2 separate regions of the Homo sapiens genome follow, and region 2 is linked to region 1. Evidence: fine-mapped expression QTL. A gene starts in region 1. The other region holds a variant in brackets. All regions are shown on one strand. Distances are between the middles of the regions.

Evidence for each region.
Region 2: its variant is fine-mapped to the expression of ACAD10 in whole blood (TOPMed, PIP above 0.99).

The regions. Positions count from the first base shown.
Region 1 is chr12:111,679,640-111,690,029 of GRCh38, reverse strand. ACAD10 (acyl-CoA dehydrogenase family member 10) reads right to left here and starts at 3,977. Exons shown (of 21, transcript NM_025247.6): 1 at 3,791-3,977. BRAP (BRCA1 associated protein) reads left to right here and starts at 4,074. Exons shown (of 12, transcript NM_006768.5): 1 at 4,074-4,319; 2 at 6,723-6,884; 3 at 8,195-8,393. The coding sequence starts at 4,238. RefSeq lists a silencer at 4,202-4,301 and enhancers at 3,646-4,347, 4,348-5,049, 5,050-5,751.
Region 2 is chr12:111,165,113-111,176,035 of GRCh38, reverse strand. All of the region lies in intron 1 of CUX2 (cut like homeobox 2), which reads right to left. Among named protein-coding and RNA genes, the nearest start is that of MIR6760, 130 kb to the left of the region's middle. The variant T/A (reference allele first, on the strand shown) is at 6,708.

The sequences.
Region 1 (10,390 bases):
AAATATTCGAAGTAAGGCCGGGTGCAGTGGCTCACGCCTGTAATCCCAGCACTCTGGGAGGCCGAGGCGGGCGGATCACAAAGTCAGGAGATTGAGACCATCCTGGCTAACACGGTGAAACCCCATCTCTACTAAAAATACAAAAAATTAGCCGGGCGTGGTGGTGGGCACCTGTAGTCCCAGCTACTCAAGAGGCTGAGGCAGGAGAATGGTGTGAACTGGGGAGGCGGAGCTTGCAGTGAGCCGAGATGGTGCCACTGGACTCCAGCCTGGGCAACAGAGTGAGACTCCATCTCAAAAAAAAAAAAAGAAGAAAATATTTGAAGTAAAACAAAACAAAACAAACACACACAGTAAGGGCACAGTAACTGACGCCTGTAATCCCAGAACTTTGGGATGCTAATGTAGGCGGATCACCTGAGGTCGAGAGTTCGAGACCAACCTGGTCAACATTGTGAAGCCCCGTCTCTACTAAAAACACAGAAAAAAAATTAGCCAGGCGTGGTGGCGCACACCTGTAATCCCAGATACTCGGGAGGCTGGGACATGAGAATCACTTGAACCAGGGAAGTGGAGGTTGCAGTGAACCAAGATTGCACCACTGCACTCCACATTCCAGCCGGGGTTATAGAGTGAGACTCCATCTCAAAAACAAACAAAAACCAACAAAAATAACAACACAACAATAAAAAATGCAAACAAAAAATACAGGTTAACAACTATTTATTTACACAGTACTTACACTGTTTTAGGTATACATACATATATATGCATGTATATATATTTATATATTTTGATATGGATATGATTTGATATATATATTAAATATATATATTTTTTGATATGGAGTCTCCCTCTGTCACCAGGCTGGAATGCGGTGGCATGATCAGAGCTCACTGCAACCTCCACCTCCTGGGTTCAAGCGATTCTCCTGCCTCAGCCTCCCGAGTAGCTGGGATTACAGGTGCGTGCCACCACGCCTGGCTAATTTTTGTGTTTTTACTGGAGACAGGATTTCACCATGTTGGCCAGAATGGTCTCGATCTCTTGACCTCATTATCCACCCACCTTGGCCTCCCTAAGTGCTGGGATTACAGGCGTGAGCCATCGTGCCCAGCCAGTATTATAAGCAATCTAGGGATTACTTAACTCATATCTTGCTTGCCCTGAGAATACTGTGCTGGCAGCGAGCTGCACTTTTTTTGCTTTCTTTTTTTTGTTTTGTTTTGAGACGGAGTCTTGCTCTGTCGCCCAGGCTGGAGTGCAATGGTGTGATCTCGGCTCACTGCAACCGCCTCCCAGGTTCAAGCTATTCTCTTGCCTCAGCCTCCCGAGTAGCTGAGACTACAGGCGCTCGCCACCACATCCAGCTAATTTTTTGTATTTTTATAGTGGAGACGGGTGTTAACCATGTTGGCCAGGCTGGTCTCGAACTCCTGACCTCAAGTGATCCACCGGCCTCGGCCTCCCAAAGTGCTGGGATTGCAGGCGTGAGCCACCACACCAAGTCAAGTACTTTTTTTTTCTAAATGGGAAATGGGTTAAAGCATATAGGAGGGTGTACATAGGTTATAAACAAATGCTACACCATTGTATATCAGGAACTTGAGCATCCACAGATTTTGGCATCTGCAGGGGGTCCTGCACCCATCTGCTGAGGATACCACCATGCAACGACAGTAATTGGAAATTTGCTGAATTTGGGGGCAATATTTGAAACTAAAAATGTCAAGGTTCATTTGCATTTTCAGTTTTACTTAACGTTCCTATGCCAAGGCCAATGTTTATGATAGAAAGAGAAATTTACTTACACACTTGTATATTTTGTGTGAGGGCTTAGTAGAGACGAAAAATGCCTTTGGGGGGGCCGGGCGCGGTGGCTCACGCCTGTCATCCCAGCACTTTGGGAGGCCGAAGTGGGCGGATCACAAGGTCAGGAGTTCGAGACAAGTCTGACCAACATGGTGAAACCCTATCTCTAAAAAAAAATACAAAAATCAGCTGGGTGCAGTGCTGTGTGCCTGTAGTCCCAGCTACTTGGGAGACTGAGGCAGGAAGCTTGAACCCAGGAAGCCGAGGTTGCAGTGAGCCGAGATGGCACCACTGCACTCCAGCCTGGGCGACAGAGTGAGACTCCGTCTCAAAATACAAAAAAAAAAAAAGGTTTGTTTGGTAAAGAGATAAAGAATGTTCGTTCTGGATTCAGATTGCCTGAATTTCAGTTCCAGCTCTGCCACTACTACCTGTGAAATCCTGAGCCAGTTACTCTTCCTCCAAGCCTCAGGTTACTCCTCTGTAGAACAGGGACATAGTACCAGTTTCATAAAGTTGTTGTGACCATTGCATGACACAAGGTATATGAAACACTCAAATTAGTACCTGGCACATGTTGAAATGTTATCTACTATAGTAATATACTAAAAAAGTTCACAAGAGGTCTCATAGGTTTTATGCATACAGTATGTGTGTATGGTTTATGCACTTTCACATAACCCTGTGATTCTTCAACAGGGTTATGTTTTCTAACCCCAAGGAGACATCTGGAAAGGTCCAGAGACATTATTGGTTGTCACCACCTGGGGAGAGGTGCTACTGACATCTAGTGGGTCAGGCCAGGGATGTTTCTAAACACTCTACAATGCTCAGGACACCCCGCCCCCTTGCCAAAAACAAAAAAGAATAATCAGGACCCAAAATGTTAATAGTGCAGAGTTGAGAAACCCTGATTTAAACAGGGCATATGGAAACGTATTTCATAGGATGTAGTCACAAGATCTATATACGCATGTATCTTGTGGTCATGTCATAGTCCAGATACACACACATCTAGAACGCACTATGTCCACACACACACACATCTAGAATGTACTATGTACTTACATATGTATCATTATACAATGTACCTAGAGTAGCATCCTGTCATGTATGTGTCCCATATGCATTGATTGTGTCAGTATCTACATACAAAAGCCACTCTGACATACTGGAAAGAATGCTGAGCCTCAGAAAAGCTAATGTTATCTCCATATACATAATTCCATTTCATCCTCACAACTGCATGAGGACATGATATCATGCCAACTTTATGCAATGACTATACTAGTTCAAGACTGCACAACTGCTGATGTAGGTCAACCTCATAGTACGGACAGGAACTGTGTTTATCTTATACGCCAACGTATCTCAAGCATCCCAAGGGTGTCTAGACTCTCAGTAAACATTTGTGAAGTGACAGGGTGGGGAGGAGGACCCCGGTCTAACTGCAGCACTATGCTCGTAACCAGCAGATCACCATCTTTTCTCTCTTTTTTTTGAGACGGAGTTTCGCTCTTGTTGCCCAGGCGGGAGTGCACTAGCACTATCTCGACTCACTGCAACCTCCGCCTCCCGGGTTCAAGCGATTCTCCTGTCTCAGCCTCCCAAGTAGCTTGGACTACAGACGCGCGCCACCAAGCCCGGCTAATTTTTTGTATGTTCAGTAGAGACGAGGTTTCACCATGTTGGCCAGGTTGGTCTCGAACTGCTGACCTGAGGTGATTCGCCCGCCTAAGCCTCTGGGCTGGGATTACAGGCGTGAGCCACCGCGCCCAGCCAGATCGCTATCTGAACAGCGATCGACTCTCCACTCTCTACGGCCCCTTAGAAGGAACTTCACCTCTCTGAGCCTCGTTGTACCTATCTGTAAAGTGGGACAGAAACAAAACCATCCAGACTAGGGTTAGAGACAGGAGTCAAACACAACAAAAGGGGCAAAGTTCTGCATAGCAGATAGCTCGGACAATTCGGAGACCTCGCGGAGCCAGGGATCCCGCGCCGTCAGCCGAGGTGGATTAGGACGAGGCCTCTGGAGCAAGCAGAGGTTAACTCGCGACTGTGCGAAAACCTGCAGCTCAGCCTAAGTGTGGCACCCCAGCGCAAGCAATCTCCACGACGTCCTTCCGCTCCGACCTCCTCAAAATTGCGTCCGGAAGAGCAGTGGGTGACCCCTGCCACGCCGCCCAATCGCTGTGCGCGGTCCTGCGCGCATGCGTAAACCGCAGGTCAGCGACGGCGGCCGGGAGGCGGAAGTGGAGGTTGTTGTGGCTCCGAGGGCTGTTCGAGGAGCTGCTGCTGCTGAGGCGGCGGCAACTGCATTGAGGTGGTGGCGGCGCTGCCGGCCCCGGGCCGCTCGGCCTCTCGGCTCGCCTTCCAGCCTCGCCTGAGCCCGCCGGGGCCCGCGCCGGCCAGCGCCTGCCCTATGAGTGTGTCACTGGTTGTTATCCGATTGGAGCTCGCGGAACACTCGCCTGTCCCCGCCGGCTTCGGCTTCAGCGCCGCGGGTGAGTCCCGCGGCCTCGCCGCATTCCCTGTAGCCGGGTCTGGGCCCGGAGGGCTTCCCTTCCCAAAGCACTGGCCCGGGAAAAGCCCGCGGCGAGGGCTGTTGCCCAGGAAGACACGGAGAGGTAATCGGGATCCCTCTCTTTCCCATCCGCCTTTGAGAGGCCTTCCCGTTTGTTATCTCAGGGAAGCCCTGCCCCGAACCTCCCTCCCTGTGCCGTCTGAGGGCATTTAGTTTATACCTGGCGCGTCTCCCTCTCGAGATAGTCGAGTGGTGTGTTTGTCTCACTTGCTTCCCTATGGGCTTCGTAAAGGCAGGGACTGGGTCCCCAGCAACGCTGGACGGTCCCTGGGTTAATTAAATTGTTCCCTTTTGGAACGATATCCATTGAAGTGCCCCCTAACCATAGTCATAACTAAAATTTGGACACTTCCTATATCCCAGCACTGTACTAAGCACCTTTTGTGTATTGTATTCTTTAATTATCTTTGCAACAGCCCTAAGAGGCAGATGGATGTGACATGTACCTCTTACACATTGGGAAACTGAAGCTTAGTGATTAATTGATTTGCCCAAGGTTATCTGTAATGGGTGAAACTGGGATTCTAACTCAGTGAGCTGGACTTGAGTCTGAGCTTTTTACACCATTAACACAAGTGAGGAAGCTCCTTAGTGGGGAATGCAGCTCTGGCTCTGTTCCTTGGTCCTCAGATAATTAACTAACATTCATTCAAGAAATACTTGGCCGGGCGCGGTGGCTCACGCCTGTAATCCTCACACTTTGGGAGGCCGAGGCGGGCGGGTCACCTGAGGTTGAGAGTTCAAGACCAGCCTGGCCAACATGGTGAAACCCTGTCTGTACTAAAAATACAAAAATTAGCTGGGCGTGGTGACAGGTGCCTGTAATCCCAGCTACTGGGGAGGCTGAGGCAGGAGAATCGCTTGAACCCGGGAGGTGGAGGTTGCGGTGAGCCAAGATTGTGGCACTGCACTCCAGCCTGGGCGACAAGAGATAAAGTCCATTTCAAAAAAAAAAACAAAAAAAAAACTTATGCTCATATCTGCTGGAGCCTTCCTTGTGTGCTGAATCAGACAGCGTCTCTGTTTTAATGGCACCAGCAGTATCATGGAGGAAACAGATGAATTAAATAAGTGCAGAATATGTGTAGAATTACAACTGTGGTAAGTGCTGTGAAGGAAAGGAGAAACAATTTGGGAAAGTATTACAAGAAGATGTGTTTGGTTTGGAGAGAGGGATGGGGGCAGGTAGGGATGGTGTCATTGGGAACTTCCTGAGGACGTGACCTTTGAAGCTGCAAATTAAAGATTGAATATGACTTTATAGCTTATGAGCACCTTTCCAAAGGCTAAAAGTGGCTTCTGAGTTCTGAGAGTCAGCTAAATTGATATTAGCCGCATATAGACATCTGCATGGGTCAGTCATGTAGTCATTTATTCATCAAACATTTAGAGGGCTTCCTCTGTGTGCTCGGCACTGTGGTATAAGGGCTGGGAATACAGTGGTGGGCAAAACAGGCCTTGTCCCTGCCCTGACAGAGCATGTATTAGGGATATTTCAGTTAAGTCTCCAAATTCCGTTTCCCTTTTCATGTGTTTCATTGATTTAAGACAGTAATCACAGATGTTCATGGCTTGGTTCATGGCATGAGCATAAGCCAGGATGTTTAAGACTACCCCTACAAGTTTTTGAAATTTTGTTTTTTTAATGGACTTGATAGCTTCATTTTGGGCTGAACACAATTTCATTTTATCAGGTGTTACTAAAATGTTAGCTCATCTGGGCATGATCACTGTTGCATCTTCTCTAAGGCTCCCTCTTTGGCGATTTGCTTTAAAGTGCATGATTTTGGGCCAGGCGCAGTGGCTCAAACCTGTAATTCCAGCGCTTTGGGAGGTCAAGGCGGGTGGATCACTTTGAGGCCAGGAGTTCGAGACCAGCCTGTCCAACATGGTGAAGCCCCATCTCTACTGAAAGTACAAAAATTAGCTGGGCGTGGTGGCACGTGCCTGTAATCCCAGCTACTCGGGAGGCTGGGGCAGGAGAATCACTTGAACCTGGGAGGTGGAGGTTGCAGTGAGCCAAGATCACACCACTGCACTCCAGCCTGGGTGACAGAGTGAGACTCTGTCTCAAAAAATAAAAATAAAGTGCATGATTTCAGTAGAACAGCCCTGCATTTCTGAGTATATTGTCCTGGCTGCTTATTGACTCTTTGCTGTGTACTGCAGTGGTCCCAGAGTTGAGTGAGATGGATACTACAAAGGCTTCTTATCATCTTGGCGGAAGGCAGGAGAAAGAAAAGGAAAACCTAATGATAGAGGAATAGAGAACAGAGAGGAGCTTGTTTTATTACCTTGTATTAATCATTCATGTGTTCTTTAGCCGGGGAAATGTCTGATGAGGAGATAAAAAAGACGACACTAGCCTCAGCTGTAGCCTGTTTAGAAGGCAAGTCACCAGGAGAGAAAGTAGCGATTATCCATCAGCATCTCGGCCGTCGAGAAATGACAGATGTGATCATTGAGACCATGAAGTCCAACCCAGGTATGCTTTCTAAAACCCTGGACTCTCTTTTGTAATGTGAACACTGGTTGCCTATTTTATACACGGTGTTTGATGAGCCTACAATTTCAACATCTAGCATACTTTTGTCTTTCACTACGTGTGTGCTTTATATGACACTGTTAAGCCACATGTTAGTGTTTCCAAATATTTCTTCCAAATTAATCCTAACAGTTGGAGTTGACAATTCAGTTCAGTGACGGGGGGGACTTTTTTTTTTGAGGCAGGGTCTCTGTTGCCCAGGCTAGAGTGCAGTGGTGCAATGTCGGGTCATTACAACCTCAGCCTCCTGGGCTGAAGCAGTCTTCCTGCCTCAGCCTCCCAAGTAGCTGGGATTACAGATGCCCTCTACCACGCCTGGGTAATTTTTGTATTTTCAGTAGAGACAAGGTTTCTCCATGTTAGCCAGGCTGGTCTCATACTCCTGGTCTCAAGTGATCCACCTGCCTCGGCCTCCCAAAGTGCTGGAATTACAGGTGTGAGCCACCACACCCGGCTACCAGGGAGAATTTCTTACCACCTAGTTCAGTGGCAGATCATTAATGTGTCCAAATAAACATGTCGTGCCTTCCCCTGCTCTGCCAGCTCATTTTTTCTTTCTTTCTTTTCTTTTTTTTTTTTTTTTTTTTTGAGACAGTCTCACTTTGTCCCCAGGTGGGAGTGCAGTGGCATGATCTCGGCTTACTGCAACTCCACCTCCTGGTTTCAAGCAATTCTCCTTCCTCTCTCAGCCTCCCAAGTAGCTGGGACTACAGGTGCACGCTACTACACCCAGCTAATTTTTGTATTTTTGGTAGAGACAGGGTTTCACCATGTGAGCCAGGATGGTCTCAACCTCTTGACCTCCCAAAGTGCTGGGATTACAGGCATGAGCCACTGCACCCGGCCAGCCAGCTCATTTTATCTGCGGAAGTGGATGTGTAGATAGTACTACATCTCCAACATGGAGGTGGTCAGAACTGGTAGGTTTGGATTTCCACCTTAGTAGCCCTGAATGTTTGTCCCAGTTAGGATTTCGTGATAGAAGATACCTGCTTGCATTATGGTATTGCCAAATGTAATAGCCATCCTTAAGTTTCTGAGGGTGTTAATGAGATTTTTATGGAGCAAAGAGAGCTTTAAAGTATGATGCCCTCATAAACTCAGCTATTCTACAAATAATAGCTGTTAATGCATTACATTGTAATTACTCTATCAAAGTTTATTCCTCTGACTTGAAATTTTAATCTAGTTCAAATCCTTCAGCATATGTCCTATCCATTTATAATCTGCTATTTTTTAACTGGTGAAAGATGAACTAAAAACTACAGTGGAAGAAAGGAAGTCTTCAGAAGCCTCCCCCACTGCGCAAAGAAGTAAAGATCACAGTAAGGAATGCATAAACGCTGCCCCAGATTCTCCGTCCAAACAGCTTCCAGACCAGATTTCATTCTTCAGTGGAAATCCATCAGTTGAAATAGTTCATGGTATTATGCACCTATATAAGACAAAGTAAGAAAACCCTCTTTTCTTGGGGGTTAGTCAATTTTTTTTTTTTTTTTTTTGCTTTGCTTTAGCATAGTCTCTTGTCCTGAAGGAAAGTGGGTATTTTAAGCTTCAAAATAATAATACTTTTGTCTGTTGTATGTTAGAGAATTCTCAGATGTTTTACATTTGATTAATCTTGTGGATTGGGTCAAAGCTTTTCCTTATAAAAGAAATGCTTGTGGATACACTTAAGAGAATATGTGGGAAAAATGTTTTCTTTTTTTTTTTTTGAAATGGAGTTTCGGTCTCGTTGCCCAGGCTGGAGTGCAATGGCGCGATCTCAGATCACTGCATCTTCTGCCTCCTGAGTTCAAGTGATTCTCCTTCCTCAGCCTCCCAAGTAGCTGGGATTACAGGTGCCCACCACCACACCTAGCTAATTTTTTGTATTTTTAGTAGAGATGGGGTTTCACCCTGTTGGCCAGGCTGGTCTTGAACTCCGACCTCAGGTTATCCGCCCGCCTCAGCCTCCCAAAGTGCTGGGATTACAGGCGTGAGCCACTGCGCCCTGCCAGGAAAATGTTTTCTTAGCAGATAGGCATGGAAGGTGATGGGGAATTGAAAGGACAAAGAAAATGATCCACAGCATCTTTGTAGTCTCATGTCCCCACCAAATCTTTACTGAAGAGGCTGCTAAGAAGTCAGTTAACTCATTACAATTTTATTACCTCTTTTTTACCATTTTCTGTGGTTCAAACAAAGCTTGCTAGAGCCCCAAGGAAAGGAAGCATTTGGCTAGATAATCCACAAGCCCAGCCACTACCTTCTTGGGTAATGGTAGCTGATACCTTAAGGCTGTTCTTGTGCTAACTCATTTGCCAGATCTCTACTGGGAAAACAGTGACTATTCAGGTAGCCATTTTGTTTTTTGTTTTGTTTTTTGTTTTGTTTTTTGTTTTGTTTTTTTTTGAGACAGGGTCTCACTCCATAACTCAGGCTGGAGTGCAGTGGTGCAATCCTGGCTCACTGCAACCTCCCCTCCCGGGTTCAAGCAATTCTCCTGCCTCAGAGTAGCTGGGACCACAGGTGCACACCACCACGCCCAGTTAATTTTTTTTTTTTTTTTGGCAGAGATGGGGTTTCATCATGTTGGCTAGGCTGGTCTCGAACTCCTAACCTCAAGTGATCAGCCCACCTCAGCCTCCCAAAGTGTTGGGATTACAGGTGTGAGTCACTGCACCCGGCACAGGTAGCCATTCTGGATCACAGCTGTCAAGTGAGTTTGCAGCATTTCAAAAAACAAATTGCATTGTGGGAGGATTTTCTTTCCTCTCTATTCCAGCCATCTCAACTTGGTAACACTTCCTGTAATCCTCAGTTACATCCTCATGGTTTAGAATTCTCTCTTGCCGGGCGTGGTGGCTCACGCCTGTAATCCCAGTACTTTGGGAGGCCGAGGCGGGGGATCACGAGGTCAGGAGTTCGAAACCAGCCTGGCCAACATAGTGAAACCCCATCTCTACTAAAAATACAAAAATTAGCCCGGCGTGGTGGCACGCGTCTGTAATCCCAGCTACTTGGGAGGCTGAGCAGGAGAATTGCTTGAACCCAGGAGTCAGAGGTTGCAGTGAGCCGAGACCATGCAGCAAGACTCTGAAAAAAAAAAAGACAGAATTCTCTCGTATATTTAGAGCTGTTTTTTTAGGCCTTTTAAGAGAGGTCCATAGCCAGAGTTGTGCTTTTAAGTTAACCAGTGACAGATTTTTTTTTTTTTTTTTTTTTTTGAGATGGAGTCTTGCTCTGTGGCCCAGGCTGGAGTGCAATGGCGCGATATTGGCTCACTGCAAGCTCTGCCTCCCAGGTTCACACCATTCTCCTGCCTCAGCCTCCCAAGTAGCTGGGACTACAAGCACCTGCCACCATGCCCGGCTAATTTTTTTTGTATTTTTAGTAGAGATGGGGTTTCACCGTGTTAGCCAGGATGGTCTCGATCTCCTGACCTCGTGATCCACCCGCCTCGG
Region 2 (10,923 bases), 510 kb after region 1:
AAGAAGAAGAAGAGACTCCTCAAACCCCATCAGTTCTCCCCCCAATCTAGGGAAAAGCACCCACTGCCTTCCCGCCCCTGCCACCTAATGCCTTGATTTAGAGACAGAGGTAGGAGATCTGGACCCAACATTCAAGACCTAAGTTCAACAGTTCAGCCGTCTCTCATGTTAAAGACACAAAAACATGTACAATAAGCTGCCCAGATCCCCGCTTACTTTTTTTTTTTAAACAAAAACATTGCAACCGGCGGTGAAAAAGACATTGTCTTGAACATACACTTTAACTGATGTCTCCGACCATTCAGTAACATGGATAAAAGAAAACTTGCTTTATTAATAGGCCCTCATGCTAATTAGCACAATTTATTGCCAGGGAGGCAGTCCCTACCTTCTGCAAATGTTATGAGTGTAGACAAAAAAACTTTTGTTGAGAACCCAACACGATATTGCCGCGTGACCAAGCCTGCCACAAAGAGATGGGAAAAGCACACAGCTTAGAGAGGCCACTCAAAGGCATGGGGTGCTGCTCTATAAATTTATGATGTCACTTGACCATTTCCCAGTAATCAGAAAGCCCCAAATTTAAATGTCGGCTGGTTTCTGCCCATAAATATGTGTTTCTCACCACTTTGAGGAAGGTTCCCTAATGACTATGAAGCTTTGTGGAAAAGTGTAAAAAAAAAAAAAAAAAAAAGGTGTGGGTGGGGAGGGGGTTGGTAAAAAAAACCTTAAATGTTTAATATTCAATAAATGTGTCAATTTTACATACAGAGGCAAATGGGTCTTTACTGAGGAATTGGTAAATTTCCTCGGAGAAAAGTAAGTGCATTTTAGCCTTCAAGGAGTCCCAGATGAATAGAAATGGAATGTGATTTGTGATAAAACTCAGCTGCTCTATAAAAGACGTTAAATAAATGTTGCTGTTTCACCAGGGATGTACAAAATTGATTGCATTATAGACTGATTCTAAGATGCTGCATCCCTGTACGGCCCCCTCTTCTGTGTGTGGGGGGGAGCTGCTTCCAGAGACAATTTAGACTGCATGGTGACTCCTCTTCCTCATGCTGTAGCAGAATTTTCTGGAATTGTAAGATTTCCTCTTTATATTTTGATTTCAGTTGAACCACAGGAAACTGCTGCTATTTGGCCATTTTTGACTTCTTCAAAACTGCAATTTCTTCTCTATCTGCTTAATATTTCCGGTGGCCTGATCATCATCCTGGGGAAGGCTGCTGATACCTCCAAAGAGAATTGTGGTTGCTGTCTAGGGTTCACGGGTGGTGATGTCCCTGTTCCCTTTGTCTGGTCACCAGAGGGCACCCCAGTCTGTAGAGGGAATCTTGCTTTTCCTTCAGCCCACCTTGGGGAGCTTGGGAGTATCCCGTGCCCTTTCTGAATCTCAGTTTTCCCCCTCTGCAAAATGGGCACAACTCCACCTTTCCTGCAGGGTATTTGGAAAACTGGATGTGGTAACCATTGCAGGTAAACTGTCCCGTGCTTTTGGCCAGCTAGTATAAGGTATTGTGTATCCAACTAGGGGCTGCATGTGACTCACATATGACACACACAGCCCTACCCTCAAGGAACTGCTAATGTCACGTCAACATAGGACAACTTCTTCAAGTGAGAAATTAGGGTTCACAGATTGAAGGGTGGAACCAAACTGATCAGGAAAACTTCCTGGAAAGCAGGAGCGTGGACTCATTCAGACACGTCCCGTGCCTCTCCATGCCTGCTGTCATCAGCCTGGTCTGGTCACTGCCAATTCCTGCCTGGATGCTTGCAGGGGCCTCCCTGGCTCCATGCAATTCTCTGCCATCTCACTTCCACCCTGGCAGCCAGACAGGGCATTTCAAGATGTAAACTGGATGTTGATACTTCCCTGCTTAAAACCTCCCCGGACTCCCCATTCCATTTCAGATCAAATCTGAACTCTCCAGCCCAGTCTGCAAGGCCTGTGTGGTCAGGGCCCTGCCTGCTTCTCTACAGCATTTCCTCCCACAGTCCTTGTGCTTTGCTCCACCCTCTGGCCCTTCATTTGGTTCCTGGAAACTGCCAAGCCCAAACCAGCCCCAGGACCTTTGTACGTGCAGTTTCCGCTACCTGAATGCCCTCTCCTCCCAATTCTTTGCCCAGTTCAGTGGTTCCCAAAGTCTCTGGCCCAGCAGGATCAGTGTCACCTGGGATCTTGTTAGAAATGCAAATTCTTGGACGGGCTCCAGACCTACTGAATCAGAAACTCTGAGGGTAGAGCCTGGCGATTTTTTTCAAGGAAATTTCAGGTGATTTAAATGCATGCTCAAGTCTGAAAATCAATGGCCTAACTCAGGCCTACCCCTCAGCCAAGTTGCAGCTTAAACATTACTTCCAGCAGACCAACACCCCAACATGAGGCCAGTTTCCTGCTGTCGTGAGCCCCTGCTGCTGCCTCCTCACCTCTATGAAGCACTATGGCAACTGTGATGTCATCAGGAACTATTTCAAGTCTGTGCCTCTTCATAGCTAGACTAAAAGCTCCAGGAGGGCAGGTACCCCTGTGCGCCCAGCACCTCATCGTGCCTAGAAGAGAGTAGGTGCCCCGGAACTATATGTTGCATGAGCACATGAATGAATGCTCAAATGAACAAATGAATGAGTTCTGGAAGAATGACAGTGTTCATAAAGAAAGTGCCCCCTGGCATCCTATTTTCCATCCACCAGCCCACAGATCAACCCTGTCCCCGTCCCCATTTGACTTTCTGAGTATCACCCTGGTCAAGTCAGGAGCCAATCACAGCAATGTATGGGAATGACCATCAAATTAGAACAACAAGAACATCAACCAAAGAACCAGCCAAGGGGAGACTCCCACGCAGTAGATGCCCAGCTCAGGGTCTAAGCCTGAACATCCCTCAAGAAGAACAACAAACCTCTCTCTCCCTGACAGCAACTGGCTGTGCAGACAGCTTCCAGATAAAAACCTAGAGACCAAAAATTTGCAGGCAAGAAGTCTGCCCATCAGCTTGGAAGATTCCAGTCCCGCACTCACCCAAGTCTTCTGGCTGAGAGGCTGAGGCTGCCTCGAACTAAGCCCCGAGTTTATTGGAAGCTTCTCGATGCTGCACGGCAGTTTGCTCAGCTCTTGGAGCTAAAGCTGGAAGGGAAATCATTTCTTTTCCTATAACTCAGAGCAGTTATATTCTCTTAGTGTGGACATCTGGCTCACTGCTGATCTCCTTACTTACGTTTTCCAAACGATATCAGTTCTGGGAAGATCAATTATTACTGAAAAGTCGAGAAACGTTCACTGGTTATTTGCATTGATTTGGTTGACAAGACACAGACTCCTTTTAAACTACAGATGTCCATGGAAGGGACAGAGAGGAGAAAAACACAAGAACCCCAGACAGCTCGAGGTTCGGAGCCTCCACCCAGCTGCAGGAACTGCACAGAGTGGAAAGCGCTGGCTGGGATGGGGACACTGAACCACCCTCCCGGAGTCCCCCAGATAGAGCCATTTCCATCAAGACAAACAGGTAGCCAGTGTTGGCCAGCACCACAAGCAGCCACGATGATATAATTTGTTCGTTACTGCATCATCTTTAATCAATAGGATCTGGAGTTTCTACAGCTTGGACAGCCCAAATCTCTCTGGCAGCCAAGAACCAGCGGGTTGTTAAAAGGCCCGATAGTTCTGCCTCGCTAATGGGTGGCTGGTTCCCTCAACCCTGCTGATTTTTTAAATAAACCTAAATTCCAATAATTGTTTAATGTTTATTTTTATTTAGTTCTGGTTCAGATGCTCTGCGTCTCTCTGACAGAAATTGATATCTGGCTCCTGGTGAGCTTTATTAAAAAACAGGCAAACACACATGCACATACACACACAAACACACACACAGAGGCACATGCACACACAAAGGCACATGCACACACACACACAAGCATATGCACACGCAGAGACATGCATACGCACAGGTGCATGCACACACGTGTGCACATGCACATGTATACGCAGGCACAGGTACACACAGGCATATGCACACACATGCGCACACACAGGCACATGCACACACACACAGGTGCATGCACATGCACGCACACACACGCACGTGTACACAGGCACAGGCACACGCACACACAGAGAGTGCATATGCTGCCTGCCCATTGGGAAATGGGTTATTTATTTGGTACAGGTAAGGCCCAGGACCCACATATCTGGATGGGAGAAGACAGAGGGCCAATTTCCCAAGCTCTGCCTTCTCTCCGGCTCCTTCCCCGGGAGGCGAAAAGGGACCCTGCCATTCTTTCACCAGGGAGCCCTGTTCTCAGCTCAGGCACTGGACAAAGGTGACACTGAGCCCCTAATTATGGCCTGCAAACCCCTTCAGCATCACTGTGGCCACAGGCTGGGATGACTCCTCAGAGAGGGCACTCTGGGCTTTTCCGTCCCATAGCCCCAGATGTGTCAGGTGGCTGTGCTCCGGAGACCCACTGAGCCACTAGCCATCTGCGTGCACAGGGACACGGGACCGGGGTTTCCCCACAAGCCATGGAAACAAGGAAGCAAGATGTCTCCGGGCTGCTTGCATTGGGTCAGAGAGAGACCCACTCCCACTGGTGCATAAGAAACCCCTCTCGTCTGTCCTTCTGGCCGGTCTCAGAAAAGCCGCAGTGAGTCTGGGTATTAAGGGGAGGTTTTTGGTGCTCTCAGCAGGCTGCACAATGCACTAAGGGGCTCAGGTGTTCACTGGCAAAATCACTGCAAACTGATGACCTGCAGATCGGGCTTGCCAACAAGGTCAAGGTGTGTGTGAAGGTCAAACTCGAGGCTTTCCTTCCATACTCTGCACCCCGTCCATCAGACTGGGGGTTGCCCAACTTCTCCATCTCTGTCACCCCCAAGTGGAATCAGCCACTGACACCTGCTGGGATGACTCCAGGTGTTACCAGCACCTATTCTCTCCTTGGATGCCAACGCCACTCTGGGTCACAGCCCAAGAGGCATCACCAGGGCAACCAGAACACCTTGCTGGACCCTACCTGGCGCTTCCCCACTCCCCTCCCATTCCCATGCACCTTGACCAGAATTGCCGATGCCAGACATGGGCCCGGTCCATCCCTCCTTAATCTCTCCCGCTTCCCAGGAGACACTCCCATGGCTTCCACATGCTTATTCCCTCCACCTCGGCCTTCCTACCACGCTGGGCCCGAGGTCAGGGACCCAGCCACGGAGAGGAACAACCTGCTATTTTCATCTTTCCAACACACCACACATAAGAGGAAGTGATGTCAAAGTTCCTCTTTCTGTCGGAGAATGGGGAAGACTGGAATCATTGAGCAGTTTCTGCAGCAAGTGGAGAGGATGTTGAAAAGAACCCAGGCTTTGTCATCAGAAGAACTGGGTTTCAGGAGGCAGGGGTTGCAGTGAGCTGAGATCGTGCCACTGCATTCCAGCCTGGGTGACAGAGTGACACACCGTCTCAAAAAAAAAAAAAAAAAAAAAAAAAAGAAGAGCTGGGGGTGTGCATCCAGCTTCAGTCACTTCCTAGCTGTGTATCCTGGGCACATCACCCTATCCTGTGATCCACGGTGGGGGCAGTTTTTTTTTTTTTCTTTCTTTCTTTGAGACGGAGCTTTGCTCTTGTTGCCCAGGCTGGAGTGCAATGGCATGATCTTGGCTTACCACAACCTCTGCCTCCCAGGTTCAAGTGATTCTCCTGCCTCAACTTCCCGAGTAGCTGGGATTACAGGCATGTGCCACCACTCCCGGCTAATTTTGCATTTTTAGTAGAGAAGGGGTTTCTCCATATTGGTCAGGCTGGTCTTGAACTCCCGACCTCAGGTGATCTGCCTCCCAAAGTGCTGGGATTACAGGCGTGAGCCACCACGCCTGGCCAGTTATTGTTCTTAATACTCTCATCCTGGGAGACTCAGGACGAATGCTCAAGTGCAATCCCTTACTGCTGCATAGGGGCTGTTACTGTTGGCACCCCAATTCTTGGAGGCAGTTTCCTTAAATTCTTCCCCCTAGTACCTTGCATGGGGCATCCAGTGGCCCTGTTTGCACAGGGAATTTGCTTCCATCCACAGCTGCCACACACAATCTCTAGCGGGCTCCCTGCTGTCCACATATGGCCCATAGTCATTCCCTGCCACCCTCATGCCCTCTGGACCACCCTGGCCTGCCACCAGCCACCCCAGCAGAACCACGTCTCTGTGTGTAATCGACTCTAATAATTGTCCCAATACATAAGGCGTGTACTCAGGGTCTATTATCAGCTAATGAGTAAATAATATTCTGTTCTAAATCCAAAAGCGCTATTAGATACCAGAGGGGGACTAATGGGCGTTTTAAGACCCCTTTAATCACATATTAACGTGACGCGAAGCAGGCTGCGGAGCCCATATGCCAACCACCCTGCCACTGAGGAGGCTTTTTCCTCTTTAAAAGAACAAAGTCAGGGAGAGAGCCAGCCCTCCATCCTCAGGGCTGGTTAGGCAGCCAGGCCGACCCGCTGAGGGTGGAAGAATGTCCCTGATCCGATTGGCTATCTTTGAATAAAACGAGTATGGTTGTGGCCATCCCTGCTTTTCTGGGGCATGGTGGGGAAAGGGGGTTCTGTTCCTACGGACGCTGTGATGAATTACCACCAACTAGGGGAGTTTAAAACAACAGGAATGTCTTCTCTCCCGCTTCTGGAGGCTGGAAGTCTGAAATCAAGGTG[T/A]GGGCTGGCAGGGCTGCGCTCACTCTGCAGGCTCCAGGGGAGGGTCCTTCCTCGCCACCTCCAGCTGCTGGTGGTCGCGGCCATCCTTGGTGTTGCTGGGCTTGTGGCATCGCTCCCATCCCTGCCTCTGTCATCACATGACTTTCTCCCTGAGTGTCCCTGTCTTCATGTGGCCTTTTGACAAGTACAATCAGTCATTAGATTTAGGGCCCACCCTACTCTAGTATGGCCTCATCTTAACTGATTTCACCTGCAGAGACCCTGTTTCTAAATAAGGTCATACCCTGAGGTTCTAGGTGGACATGAATTTTGGCGGATGCCATTCAATGCAGGACAGAGGTGAGATGGAGGGGTAGTGATGACAGTGGGGGGAGGGGGCAGGCAGGGGGCTCTGATATGGACCTTCATACTCTGAGCGACTATAACATAGAGTTCCTGCCATCTTGCAACCCCCACCCGGCTGAGCATTCCACAAAAGTTCAAGCACCCGACCCAAATTCCTCCCACTGATCCATCATGTCCTATTAGCAACTTGCGTTTCTTATTAGCTACTTCCATCGACTCATATTAATATTTGTTTTCCCTAATACAATGCAGGAGTCTTCTCCGATTAGTAACTTTCATATCACATTAGTGGAAACAACTATGAATACAATACAATCCCAATATGACACAGTTTGATGGGGAGTCACTAACACAATGCGACTCTCCCCTGTGATGGCACAGGAATGTCGCTCTGTTGTCAGGCAGAGCTAGGGAACGTGGAAACAATCAGTCCCCAGCATGCTGAGCCACATGGGCCACCCTTGACCGACGGGACGAGGTTCTGGTGTGGTGGGAGGTCCTGCTTGGAAGGAACCAACTTAGTGCGTCTCTCCTTGTTTCCAAACACCCACCCATCAGATCAATAAGGATCATTCCAGCTATTCTCCAAAACTTCTGAGCAGCCCTGGAATCTGCAGGGGACAGGTGACAGGCAGAGAGAAGGGCTTGTGACATCTTCTGCAACCCAGATCTCCACAGCTCTACCTTTATCAGTGTGACAGGCAGGGCTGGTGTTGCCCAGGTTAATTCATCAAGGATGTGTGAACACAGCAGAGTTGGGGTGAGGTGAGGAGCCACAAACTGGGTTGCTGTCTGATGAGGCCTCAGGAAATGGGTTGGGGAGGAACGGCGCTGAGACGGTGCACATCTGTCAGGGCAGTTTAGAAAGACTTCACTCCAGCCAGCTTGGCTCCGGACTGGCTTGAGTTCAAATCTTATCACTGCCCTCTCTAGGTGATCTCTCTGTGCCTCAGTTTCCTCCTCTGTAAAATGGGGATAAAACAGGGCGTACCCTGAGCGCAGTGGCTCACAACTGTAATCCCAGCACTTTGGGAGGCAGAGGTGGGTGGTTAACTTGAGGTCAGGAGTTCGAGACCAGCCTGGCCAACATGGTGACACCCCTTCTCTACAAAAATACAAAAATTAGCTGGGCGTGGTGGCGTGTACCTGTAATTCCAGCTACTCAGAAGGCTGAGGCATGAGAATCACTTGAACTCAGGAAGCAGAGGTTGCAGTGAGCTAAGATCATGCCACTGCACTCCAGCCTGGGCAACAGAGCAAGACTCCATCTCAAAAAAGAAACAAACAAACAAACAAACAAACAAACAAACAAACCCAGGGCCAACCTAATAGGATTGTTAGGAGGATTAAATGAGATAGGAACAGAAAAAACTTAGAGCTTTGCATGGCATCTGACAACGTGGTAAATCTGCCTTAAGATGCAGCACAGGCTATGACTGCAAATCCTGAAGTGACTCGGTCCCTTCTACCATGGACGGGGGTCACCCCTCCTTGCCTTTCAAGTTCACCCACTTGTTCTGAGTGAGCTCTGGGCTAGGCATTACAGAAAAATAAAAAGTTGAGGATGAAACAGGCCCTCCCCCTCGAGAAGCCCATGGTCTACTTAGGGGCACAAGCTACAGAACCGAGAGGCAGGGGTCATATCACAAGAGGTTTTCGAGCCAAGTCAAGGAGTGTGAACTTTATCTCGATGGAAATAGGGAACAGTGGAAGAAGCAAAAGCCCCTAAGCTTCAGTGCAGGTGAAGGAAAGAAGGCCTGTGGGGACAGGGGATGGTGCTTCCCTTGGTGCCAAACCACCTGTCAGCTCAAGTCCTGGCAGAAAGAGAGGCCAAGGGATAGCAAGAGACAGAGACAGACAGGGGCAGGGAGGACAGTGCAGAAGCTGAGACTGTGAGCTTCTTGTGACAGTGCTGGCGCTCTCGCTCTCCCTGCCAGCCTGTCTAGGAGACTGGCAGAGCCCCCGCCCTGCCCTGCCACAATCCATTCCAAGCTATCCCAGGCAAGGTTGCCGAATAATTCCCACCGCCTCCAAACGGCACTCCACGTGGCAGCCAGCAGCCTGCTGCCAAGGGGCAAGTGGCCAAGATTCCCTTCCAACAGAGACATCCCCTCGCCAATCAGAATGCGGCCGGCACGCGTCCCAGAAAGTTGGACGGTTGCTGTTCGCCAAGCAGATGATGCCGTCAGGACTTCTCGGTCCTGGGCAGTGTCCGCTACCCCCGCCCAAGCCTCCCAGCAAGGAGGGTCCACTCTCAGGGACCAAACACCGGCCCCTTCCACGTTTAGCCTCTGCAGATCCTCCTGATGAAAGCACAGACTCTACAGTCAAAATGCGAGGGTTCAAAGCCTGGCCCCTCCATCAAGCAGCTGTGCAAACCAGAGCAAGTCACTTAACTTCTCTGAGCCTCGGGCTGTGTTCACAACATGGGGTTCATACCTCATAGAGTTGTTGGGTGGGTTAAATGAGAATATCTGCAGGAAGTGCTTTTCCAGTGCCTGGCACTTAGTCCATGCTCAATAAATGTTAGTTTGGGTATTACCATCTACGGTATGTCGTCTACTCAGAACTCAGCTAACTGATAATGTCAGCTTTCCAGAATGGAGCTAGGAGCCAGAGGGTTAGAAGAAAAGGCTTCCAAGCAGTTAAAATAAATGTCGCAGGCTGGGCGTAGTGGCTCACGCCTGTAATCCCAGTGCTTTGGGAAGCTAAGGCAGGAGAATCGCTTGAGGCCAGAAGATCAAGTCCAGCCTGGGCAACAATAGCGAGACTTCGTCTTTACAAAAAAATGAAAAAAGTTAGTCAGGTGTGATAGTGCACACCTATAGTCCCAGCTACTCAGGAGGCTGAGGCAGGAGGATCACTTGAGCCCAGGAGGTTGAGGCTGCAGTGAGCCGTGATCACACCACTGCACCCCAGCCTGGGTGACAGCGAGACACCCAGTCTATAAAAACAACAACAACAAAAAAGAGTCAAAGTGGACACACTGAAAGCGCAATCATGAAAACCATTTCATATTAGTAATATTAGAGTAACATGCTTAATATAATCGTAATTAGTAATCACCACCACCAAACACTGTGGATAGCAATTTAAATACGTCTTGGCATTTCACCAGTAGGATGCTGGTAAATGTTAAACAACCAGCTCTCTGGAGAAAAAGGACAAATTCTGATATTTACCATTTCCATGGTGTACATTTTCCCACCATGGTCAATTTCAAGCCCTGCTGTGATGTCACTACACGTGGAGCTGGGAGGCGATGCTTATAGCTGGTTCTCACCCACCAGCTCTGGTCACTGCTGCACGAACACTCTCCACATCCCAATGAGGTCAGTGCTATTTTTACCCCCATTTTGTAGACAAGGACAATGAGGCCCAGATACACATATTTCTTCACCCAGGGTCATACAGTGAGCAAGTGGCAGCAGCACCAGAATTTGAGTCCAGTTCTGTGTGGATTTTAAAGTTCATGTTCTCTGCACGTGGCCCAAATTCCCCGCCATGAGACAATAACACTGACCGTCTTGGTAGAGACAGACGACAGTCTGTGTCCACTCTCCACCAAACCCTTGCATCTTCTGTGCTTAACTCTGTTTGACAACTTCTGGAGGCCACTGCCTCAATGAGGTCACTCTGGTTTGGCTCTGAAGACGTCCTGCCATGTGGGTCACCATGGCCCTCCATGACCTTCCTACTTCTCTTTTCTCAGGGGGCAGAAAGATGCATCTCTTCCCTACCCAGAGAGCTAAACACCAAATGTTTTCCTAATAAAATGGCATATAGGATCATAGCCTCCACCCCATCCTTACCCGCATAAATAGCCCCTAGTCCCTTACGACACAGAGGCCCTTCTGACAGCATCTACAAA